2 linked regions of the Homo sapiens genome follow. The protein of the gene in region 2 purifies or fractionates together with the protein of the main gene of each other region. This does not show direct contact. Each region holds a gene or a part of one and is shown on either strand. Other genes may lie near its edges.

Region 1 (7,000 bases), on a different chromosome or scaffold from region 2:
TACTGAGTCTTTGGACCACTCATTACCATCATTGTGACTGTGAAAACAATCAATCAATCAGCTTTAAGGTGATCACTATGACAATGTGCTTTCCAGGTATGCATTATGGGAAGAAGGCAGGGAGGCCTACATTTGTTTCACATGTTCTGTTAGTTAAATGCCAAAAAAATTAGTTTTCCATTTGGTTGCTCCAGAACCCCTGGCTGCCACAGATCATTGCTGGACAGTTGTAGGAGGATTCTTGGTACTTCTGATACAATCACCATTGTCTCTATGCCTTGAATGCCAAGGCATAAACAATATAGAAAGATGTTGTCATCTTTGGAAAAGCTGAGAACCTCTTGGTTAAGACAGCAGTCTCCTTGACTTATTTATCACTTTGTCTACTTCTAGATGTTATTGAACTCTGCCTTGGTAGGGAAATCTTGGGTCAATATTTCTCCAATGAAGTCGGTGGCCCCTTTAGAGACAGGGAGGACTGGGTTCTGATGGATGAAGAGAAATTTCCCACAAAATCTGGAGCTGCCTGTGGTGACTGGTCTTTGATGATGCCCCTTTCCCCACCAAGATCTCACCAAACAAATGTATCTCAGTTGCCAGCCCCTAACTCTGAGTTGATATCCAATATAACAAACTCTCAATACAATAGGATTAATAAAAAATATTTTAATGAGATTCAACCTGGATATGCAATTTGCCTTTTCCTTATGGTCACTCGAATTATCCCGGTCCTGCACTTAACGCTACTTTAATCTGGATTTCAGGTGCAGGATTTGACCAAGGCAAATGTTCTGGTCTTTATGTCTTCCTCTTCTTCCGTTTTTATATAATTATTGTTAGAAGGATTTCAATTTTCATTTTAACCACCGAAGGCTTCATGAGTTGCAAAGGCAACTTTGGTGGATGTTTCACAATTTAGGAAAAAATGTTCCTAATTTTTACTTAGAGTTTTGTTTCTCTGACTTTACAAGTATCTGTTTGGGAAAAAAGAAAGAGTTTTGGGTTTGGAGTTGTTTGGGTGCAATTCTAGGCTGAGCGCCTCTCTGAGCTTGGGTGTGTGTTGTTCCTTACAAGCCTTAGTTGTAGCTTGCACCACCTTCCTTAGGGTGTGGTCCTGATGAGTAAAAGGGACAATATGTGTGAATGTGCTCTGTAAACTCTAGAAGACTTTACAAATGCCAGGCGTTTGTCTTATTTCTGATGCCCTCTAAGGAACTCCAGAGCTTTAACCAGTTTGCTCTGGGTGCATGGTTGGCCATTGCATATGGAACCAGACCATGAGCCACTGCCTTCTCTCAAGTACTTTCGAGTGTCACTGTGTTTATGGCTCTATGATTTAGCACCACATAGGAGGAAGTAATCATTGCACTGCCCCTGAGTGTCTGGTTAAAGGACAAAATGCAGACAAGTGTTGAGTGGACTCCATTTCCCACATGATGTAAGTGGGGCCACGGCAACTATGAGTTACACAGCTATAAATGGGTCACAGCAAGGCGTAAACATCACATGTTCCTCAGTCTGGACTTAGGGTGACACAAGGGAGATATTTGGTGTATCATCCCCACACCAGCCAAGATGTGCCCTTCCCAAATGTAAACTAGAGGTTTTGCTTCCATGTCATTTTTGGTCTGGGTATAAAAGTTACGTGGGGTAGCTAGAGAATGACTTTTCAGCTGGTTGCCATACCTTCCCCATCATTCTCACAAATGTCCCCATACAGGAGAACAGGGCACAGGAGAATAGCTGACAGCTGTTGTCTAGGCAGCAAAGCAGCGTGGCCCTGGAGACAGCCCAATACACTTGCATTCCAACACCCTGACAAACAAGAGTGCTTTACAGAGTGGGCAATTTTAGCTCTGGATCCCTTCCCATTGTTTCTCATTTCTAAATTCAAGCCCTGACACAGAGCAGGGAGCTCAGGTATCTGGATTCCCGAATTTTTGTATTCTGGTATCATGCCAGCATCCCGAGCACATGCTGAGTCCCACAAAGCCAAGGATGGAGACTCTGGCCGTCTGGGGACTTTGTACTCTGGGATGGACTATATCTGACGTTATCCATCAGTGCATTCCTGTTTCCAGGCATGTTGGGCCTTCTTGAATTCTACCGGGACCCGGGAGTGGGGGAAGCTGAGGGACAGGGTGATCTGCAGGAGGACACCTGCAATGGCTCCTGCTTCATCTGCCACCTCATGCCTGGCTCCTTCTGCAAAGAAGAATCAGGTTTATTTTGTAGGCTGAACAAGGTAGCTGTGTAATCAGTTGGTGGAGTTCCTGGCACGTAGTAGGTGCTCAAAACTGGTACTGCCACCATCAGCTGTTTCTCCACTCCCACATGAGCACAGGTTGATAGCACTGGCCCAGCTTCCCCCTCTTCACAGTTGTATTCAGGCCTCCCTTGGCTCTCAGCTGCAGTAAGTAAAGAGGAAGAGCACAGTTCCCCTGGGGCTAATGTTATGTTAAGAATTCCATGCATTTATTTTCCTAAATATGGTCATCTCACAGTGGTCGTGGTGGTCTGGGAAAACTGGATCAAGATTTCTCTGTTTTTAAAAAAAATTTTATTTTCATAGCTTTTGGGGTACAAGTGGATTTTTTGTAACACAGATGAATTGTATAGTGATGAATTCTGAGATTTTAGTGCCCCCGTCACCTGAGTAGTGTCCATTGTACCTAATATGTTGTTTTTATCCCTAGCTCCTCTCCCACCCTTCCCCTTCTGAGGCTCTAAAGTCCATTATATCACTCTGTATACCTTTGCATACTCATAGTTTAGCTTCACTTATGAGAACATACAATTTTTTGTTTTCCACTCCTGTGTTACTTCACTTAGAATAATGACCTTCAGCTCCATCCAAGTTGCTGCAAAAGACATTATTTCATTCCTTTTTATAGATGAGTAGTATTTCATGGGGTATATATACCACATTTTCTTTATCCATTCATTAGTTCTCTATGTTTATAAAACTGTCTCAAAGTCAGAGAGGCCTATAAGCTGAACCCAGTCGTGAAGGACATCTTATGACTCTCCAATGCAAATGGCTCATCCTATGTTTCTCAGTATAGCCATAATTTCACCTATCTATCTGGGACAGATAAAGGATTATCAGAGTCCATATCAAGTCTGCCATATAAATGGTACCCATTTCTGGGTTGCAGATGGTGCTTCTCAGTCTGGACACATCTTGGAGAGAAATCACACCTCATAAAACATGCTTCAGTTACAATTTCCTATGGATCATCACCCATTCCATGCTGCTCAGAGAAGCCCAAGGAATACCTCAGCTTCAAGGGAAGCTTGTCATGGGCCTCTTACTTAGCCAGAGAGACTGGCCATATGTCATCCAGCACAGTGACCATAGCAGTAAAGTGGCTACAGCATACCCTGGCCATCATGGGGCTAGAGCTGGGACCTAGGGCAGAATTGGCAGCATAGTGGAGACATAGCACATCAACCCAACACTCCTGGATTTCTGCATCTATGAGCCTTCACTCATTACTGCTGACTCACATTGAAGAATGTGGGTTTGGCTATAACTGCAACTCCAGTTCTTTTCCTATTTTCATTTCTCCAGTAGTCCAACTCATCAATCACTGGACCCCTGCTATGTGTCAGGTGCCATGATAGGCAATGGGATGTAAAAATGAATAGGACATATTTATATCCTTAAAAGATCCTAGCCTAGTGGCAGGGCAGCTATAGTGGGAAACATGAGGAGTGAGATGATGCATATAAGCAAATAATCACAATTCAGCATGTTACATGGAGAATCATGGGGAGGTTGGATTTAAAAGTTATAACCAAAGAGGCGAGGCCCAAAGGCTCTTGTCATTACAGGAGCAAAAAGTGGTCTAGTGAACTCAGAATATAGGATACTTGAGGGAGAATGACCAGAGATGAGCCTGGATCCTGATACCCCAGGATGAAGCTGTGAAATTGCTGGTCACTCAGAAACCATGGGCTGGGAAGGAAGTGGTATCTTACTTCCACTTTGTGACTGGCATGGACTGAAAATTGATAATTTCTTAAAAAAATTAGTAAACAACCTAAACGTCCATTGGTAGATGTATGAATAAAGAAAATGTGGTAACACACACACTGGAATTTTTATCCTGGAATAAGAAGGAAACTCTGCAATATGTGACAACATGGATAAACTTTGAGGACAGTATGCAAAGTAAAATAAGTCAGTCACACAAGGACAAATACTGCATGATTCCACTTATATGAGGTGGCTAAAGTAGTTAAACACATAGAATCAAAGAGTGAAGTGGTAGTTGTACAACATTGCTGTACAACATTGTACTTATGGTCAACAATAATGTATTATACACTTAAAATGTATTAAGAGAGTAAATCTCATATTGTGTTCTTTTGATAATAAGATAAAATGCTGGGGAAATACAAGAACCTATGCTGACTGCTCTTGATAGCATTTTCAGTTTTGCAATCATTAATAACTTCCTACCTTTTCCTCTGGTTCACAAACCATCCATACCTTGTTAGTGGAGTAGAAACAGCCCTAAAGTCGGGACACCTCTGTTAAAATCCCAGCTTTTCTATCTACCAGCTATGAGACTTTGAGCTAGCTACTTTGATTTTTGAACTTCTATGTATTTCATCTCAACAGTGAGTACAACACAACCTGCATCACAGCAATGCTAGAAATGTTCAATGACACTATGGGCTTTGTGATCTCTAAAGAAATATACAAGAAAGAGAAGCTTTCTTATAGAGAGATCTCTGCTATATACTTCTCTGGATTCAATGGCCAGAACTGGGTCCCATGGCTCCCCCTAGCTGTAAGAGAGACTGAGAAATAGAGTATATTATTTCACTCACCAGCCTTTGTAGTAGAGAAAAACAAGGGTTATGGAGGGTGCCAAACCAGAGTTTCTGCCCCAGCAGGGGGAATATCCTTGTGTATGTAGTTTTCTTTCTCCAGCCATTGGCAATACAAAAGGTGAGCATTCCATTTTTAAGAAAAGATTCAGCTCACTCACATAAGTAAAACACACAAGGAATGACACCAAAGACTAATGGAAAACAAATGTGTAAATAGTGTTCAAGAATCCCTGCATTACAAGAGCTTTGAAAAGAAGTGGCACCATATCAATTAGCTATTGCTGCATACCAAATCACACCCCAAATTCAATGTTTAAAACAAGATCATTTCTTATTCTAACTCATGTGTTTTGGCCTCAGCTGATATAGGTTGGGCTCAGCTGATCTTGGCTGGACTCACTGATGTGTCTGCAGGTCATCTGGGGGCTCTGCTCTACATGGGGCCTGGTTAGGGTGCTTTAGCGGGGGTGGCCCTGCTCCACATATTTCTTGTCCTTCTTCTGGGATCAGAAGGCTAACCTGGCCACACCCTTGTTATGGCAACAGCAGAAATACAAGAGTAAGCAAAAACGTGATACCTTTTGAGGCATAGGCTCAAAACTGGTACACCATCATTTCTGCCTCATTCTGTTGGCCAAAGCAAGATGTGTGGCCAAACTCAGGCATGAGGAATTATACCCCACCCACAGTGGTAGAAAACTACAAAGTTACATGGTAGTAGGGAGAGGTGAAGAACAGGAGCCATGAATGCAAATTTACCTCAGGGATCACTGGTCATACAAGCCATAATCATAAGACTAACAATATACTCTAATCCTTCAGGAGAAGCTATCTTAATTTAGTTTAGAATTACTTAAATCACTAGAGCCAAAGTTGATGGCCACAGCATCTACCCATAGTTCATTTACATTCATGGAATTGAGAGATGAAGTTTTCAAGTGAAAATGGGGTCTTCAATGTTGACTTATTCCTATCATATTGATTTATAAGCTGTCCCTAACATATCTCATGAAAATTATACTAATGATGAACCTGGAGGACATTATGCTAAGTCAAATAAGACAGTCATAGACAAATATGGCATGATCTTACTTATATGTGGCATCTAAAAACATTAAACTCATAGAGGCAGAGAGTCAAATGGTGGTTGCCAGGGGCTTGGGGTGGGGGGTGATGTGGATGGGGCGATGATGGTTAAAGAATAGACCGAATTTCAGATACATAAGAGGAATATATTCTGGAGATCTCGTATTAGTCCGTTCTCGTGCTGCTATGAAGAAATGTCTGAGACTGGGTAACTTATAAAGGAAAGAGTTTTAATTGACTCACAATTCTGCAGGGCTGGGAAGGCCTCAGAAACTTACAATCATGGCAGAAGGGGAAGCAAACACGTCCTTCTTTACATGGCAGCAGCAAAGAGAAGTGCAGAGCAAAACGGGGGAAAGCCATTATAAAATCATGAGATCTCATGAGAACTCACTCACTATCATGAGAATAGTATGGGGGGAACCGCCCTCGTGATGAAATTATCTCCATCTGGCCCCACCCTTGACATGTGGGGATTATTACAATTCAAGATGAGATTTTGGATGGGGACACAGCCAAACCATATCGGATCTATTGTACAGCATCATGACTACAGTTAATAATGTATCCTTGAAAATTGCTAAGAGATCTTAAATGTCCTCATCACAAAAATAAGTATGTGAGGTGATGGATATGCTAATTATGTTGACTTAATCATTTCACAATGTATGTATGCATATATCAAAACATTGCATTGTATACTGTAAATATATACCATTTTTATTTGTCAATTATGCCTTAATGACACTGGAGGCAAAAAACTCATGGTTCCTTTGGTTTTTCTTTTTCAGGATTGATGTGAAGAAATAAAGAGGCAGAAGATGGATTCAATAGCTCACTAAAATTTTATATATTTGTATGATGATTGTGAACCTCCTGAATGCCTGAGACTCTAGCAGAAATGGCCTGTTTGTACATTTATATCTCTTCCTTCTAGTTGGCTGTATTTCTTACTTTATCTTCATTTTTGGCACCTCACAGAACAAATTAGCCCATAAATTCAACACCTGGAGGGTGTGGTTTTGAGGAGGGATATGATTTTATGGAGAATGATATGGCAATGTGCCTA
Region 2 (2,898 bases):
GCCTGCAAGTGGCATCTGTGCCACTTGGCTCTGGAGTCATCTGGGTGGCAGAGGGTCTGGGCTAGAACCTCAAGGGGGTGAGAGAGGCAGGGCTTCAGTGGAAACCCCAGACCTTGCTGAAGCAGGTAGACCTGGGCTGTCTTCCTACCAAGGAGGCCCCCTTGCTCTACCCTGTTCTGTCCCCATCTGGCACACCTGGCCTGGGGTCCCTGGGCCATGGAGGGGACTCTGCTTCCCACTGTAGTGCCCATCCCATTCTCTACCTCTCAGGTCCCCTTCTCCCCCAGCCCTTCCCTGGGGTCCTGGGCTGCCTCCTGTGGCTCTCTGCACCCCTCGTCTCTCTCACCTTTCATTTGGCCTCTTCCCTAGAACTACTCCGGAGACCTCGGGGCGCGAGTGGCCCTGCATGAACTCTACAAGTACATCAACAAGTACTATGACCAGGTGGGCAGGCCCTGGACCCCGACTGGGAGGCTGACCCAAGGCCTCCCAGGAGACTTAAGGGGCTCTGACCCTGTGACTCACGTTGGGGGCTTTGGTCTTCCCCAGGGACAGAGTAGTGGGGGGCCGGGCCCCTTGGTGGCTTGAGAAGTGTTTTCCAGGCGGGCTTCCTGGCATTGGCTGTGCTCTCACCTGTCCCACTGCTCCCCATTCCAGCTCCCCAGCAGGACGGCGAGGCACAGTGCTGGTGGTTGTGGGGGCCAAGGGGTCTACCAGGGCCTGGAGATGGTGTGCATTTGCTGAGTTGGCAGCATGTTGGGCACGGCCAACATGCAAGTGCAGGCCTGGCTTGGCTGCATGAGCTGCGAAGAGGAGAGTCCAGGCACAGGGCCAGGGGTGTGAGGGTACACTGGAGCTGGTGAAGCTTTTTGGAGGATCCCTGGGCTGTGCCTGAAGAGCTGAGCACCTGCCAGTCAACCTGCTGGATGCCTGGTGGAATAGTCCACTTAGATGTTTGTGTGGCACCAGTGACATGGCTATTGCTGCTCAGAGATGAGGAACCTGTCTCATGGCCCACAGCCTTCCTCGGCATGGTGTGGGCCATGGCACGGGGCTTGGGGGAGGCAGGGTGTGATGCAGGCATGTCCCCTTGTGGAGACATAGTGGGCAGTAGCTGTTTTCCCAAGTGCTGCTGCCCTCCGGTTCCTACCGGTTCCCTTGGTGGCAGCCCCAAATTCGTGGTTCGTGTTTGATCAGTGTCTGTTTTCCCACCACGTGTCTGGTCATTCTTGGGTCTCTGCCCCTTGTCTGGCACCGGGCAGACAGGAACTTGGGAAATACTGTTGGCTGGCGGGTGGGTTAGCCAGGATGGCTGCAGCAGGGCTTCTGAGGAGCTCGCTACTGAGTCAGGTCCTTCATTTCCTACCTTATTCATCCTGGAACCCCGCGGTGACTTTGATGTTATTACCCCTCCCGCCAGCGAGGCCCTGAGGTCCCAGAAAGTACGTGAAGTGACCGGCTGGGTTTCTTGGCCTCCTACCCCACTCATGCCACAGCGTCTTAGGAGGGCTGTTGAATTTTGCAGCAAACACGTTGGCCAAAGAAGTCTCCCCTGATGGCATTGGTCTCTGTTTCAGATCATCACTGCCCTGGAGGAGGATGGCACGGCCCAGAAGATGCAGCTGGGCTATCGGCTCCAGCAGATTGCAGCTGCTGTGGAAAACAAGGTCACAGATCTATAGGAACCCAGGAGCCACGGCCTGCTGTTGCTTCAGCCTGGCCTGGGCAGCCCTGGAAGCTCGGAGGAGAGGCCACCTTCTTAGGTGCCTGTAGTGACTGACAAGCAGAGTTAGTGGAAGGTGACTCCCAGTCTCCTGGTGGCTCTGGCCTCGGCCCTGCTGGATCCACCTCCTAGACCCGGGGCCTCAAGGCTCATGGGGTAGTACCCAGCCTGCTCCCCGAGTCCAGCGACCCTGTGACACCGGTCTGCAGGGAGTTGGGGACTAAGGGCTTCCAGAGAGTGGCTGGAAGAGACTCCAGGCCCCTGGGGAGACTGTACTGTTCCTGAACACTGGCCTTGGCCACACTGGGATTCGGAGAGGAAGGAGGAGAGCCCCATGCTTCCTGTCTGCCTCCTCCACCATCCCTGACCTCAGTTGAGCTGCCTCTGGCCTTGTTGCTGCTGCCACATCCTAGGTCTAAGAGTTGAACGCCTCTCCTAGGCCACTACAAACTGACCCCTCAGCAGGGCTGGCTGCCACAGGGCTGCCCTGCCTCATAGGTAGCCATGGTGAGGGCTATCTGCTGCAGGGGGGTCTTGGGGAGAGTGGTGACTCCATTGACCCAGCTTTTCATTAAAGGATAACACACTGCACTGAGTCTGATGTGTGAGCCCGGCCTAGCCCCTGGCTACTAGGAGGACGGCAGCTATGCCCAGCAGGTACCAGGGGGAGGTGGTATCTATACTCTTGGGGAGTCTCATGGTTCCCCATCATATCCCAGACTGCAGGGCTGGCTGAGGCTCTCCTTGACGCCTGGGCAGGGTCTGGTGGGGTCAAAGCTTCCGTGAAGGAAGAACCCCATCTGGGGCAGGGCGGGTGACCGAGATAGAGGGGTCTACAGTCTCTTCAAGGGGGCCTGCTTTATCTGCAGTTTGCGTATTCTCACTTCTCCACTCATGTTCTATTTATCTTGAAAGGGACTAGGAAAGGATGACATAATTACAGGCAACTCTAGGCAGAGGGGGTCTCGAGGGCCATTTTCCATGGTCCTGTTCCTGGACTTAGGGTTTCTGTGTTGCCTTCCAAATCAGGGCATCCTAGGGCCGGCTCCTAAACTGTCTGCCTCCATGAAGGCCGCCTTATATGGTTCTTCCTGATTTGTACCTGGAGGTGAGCTTGGAGACTGTCTTATCTGGTCTCATGTTGCTAGTTGGGTCTGTAGGGCAGGGGGTTGATA

The links.
Region 1: the proteins of PLXNB1 (region 2) and SMPX purify together in Homo sapiens (affinity purification with mass spectrometry; 2 studies listed by BioGRID and IntAct, with this or other methods). This does not show direct contact.

What each region holds. Positions count from the first base shown.
Region 1 is NC_000023.11:21,706,117-21,713,116, reverse strand, and holds part of SMPX (small muscular protein), read left to right. Parts: intron 1-2,418; exon of another isoform or gene 2,419-2,431; intron 2,432-6,722; 3' UTR 6,723-7,000. UniProt on the Homo sapiens protein: Plays a role in the regulatory network through which muscle cells coordinate their structural and functional states during growth, adaptation, and repair.
Region 2 is NC_000003.12:48,403,270-48,406,167, reverse strand, and holds the end of PLXNB1 (plexin-B1 precursor), read left to right. Parts: intron 1-369; coding exon 370-444; exon of another isoform or gene 445-445; intron 446-1,577; coding exon 1,578-1,682; 3' UTR 1,683-2,314; downstream 2,315-2,898. UniProt on the Homo sapiens protein: Receptor for SEMA4D. Plays a role in GABAergic synapse development. Mediates SEMA4A- and SEMA4D-dependent inhibitory synapse development. Plays a role in RHOA activation and subsequent changes of the actin cytoskeleton.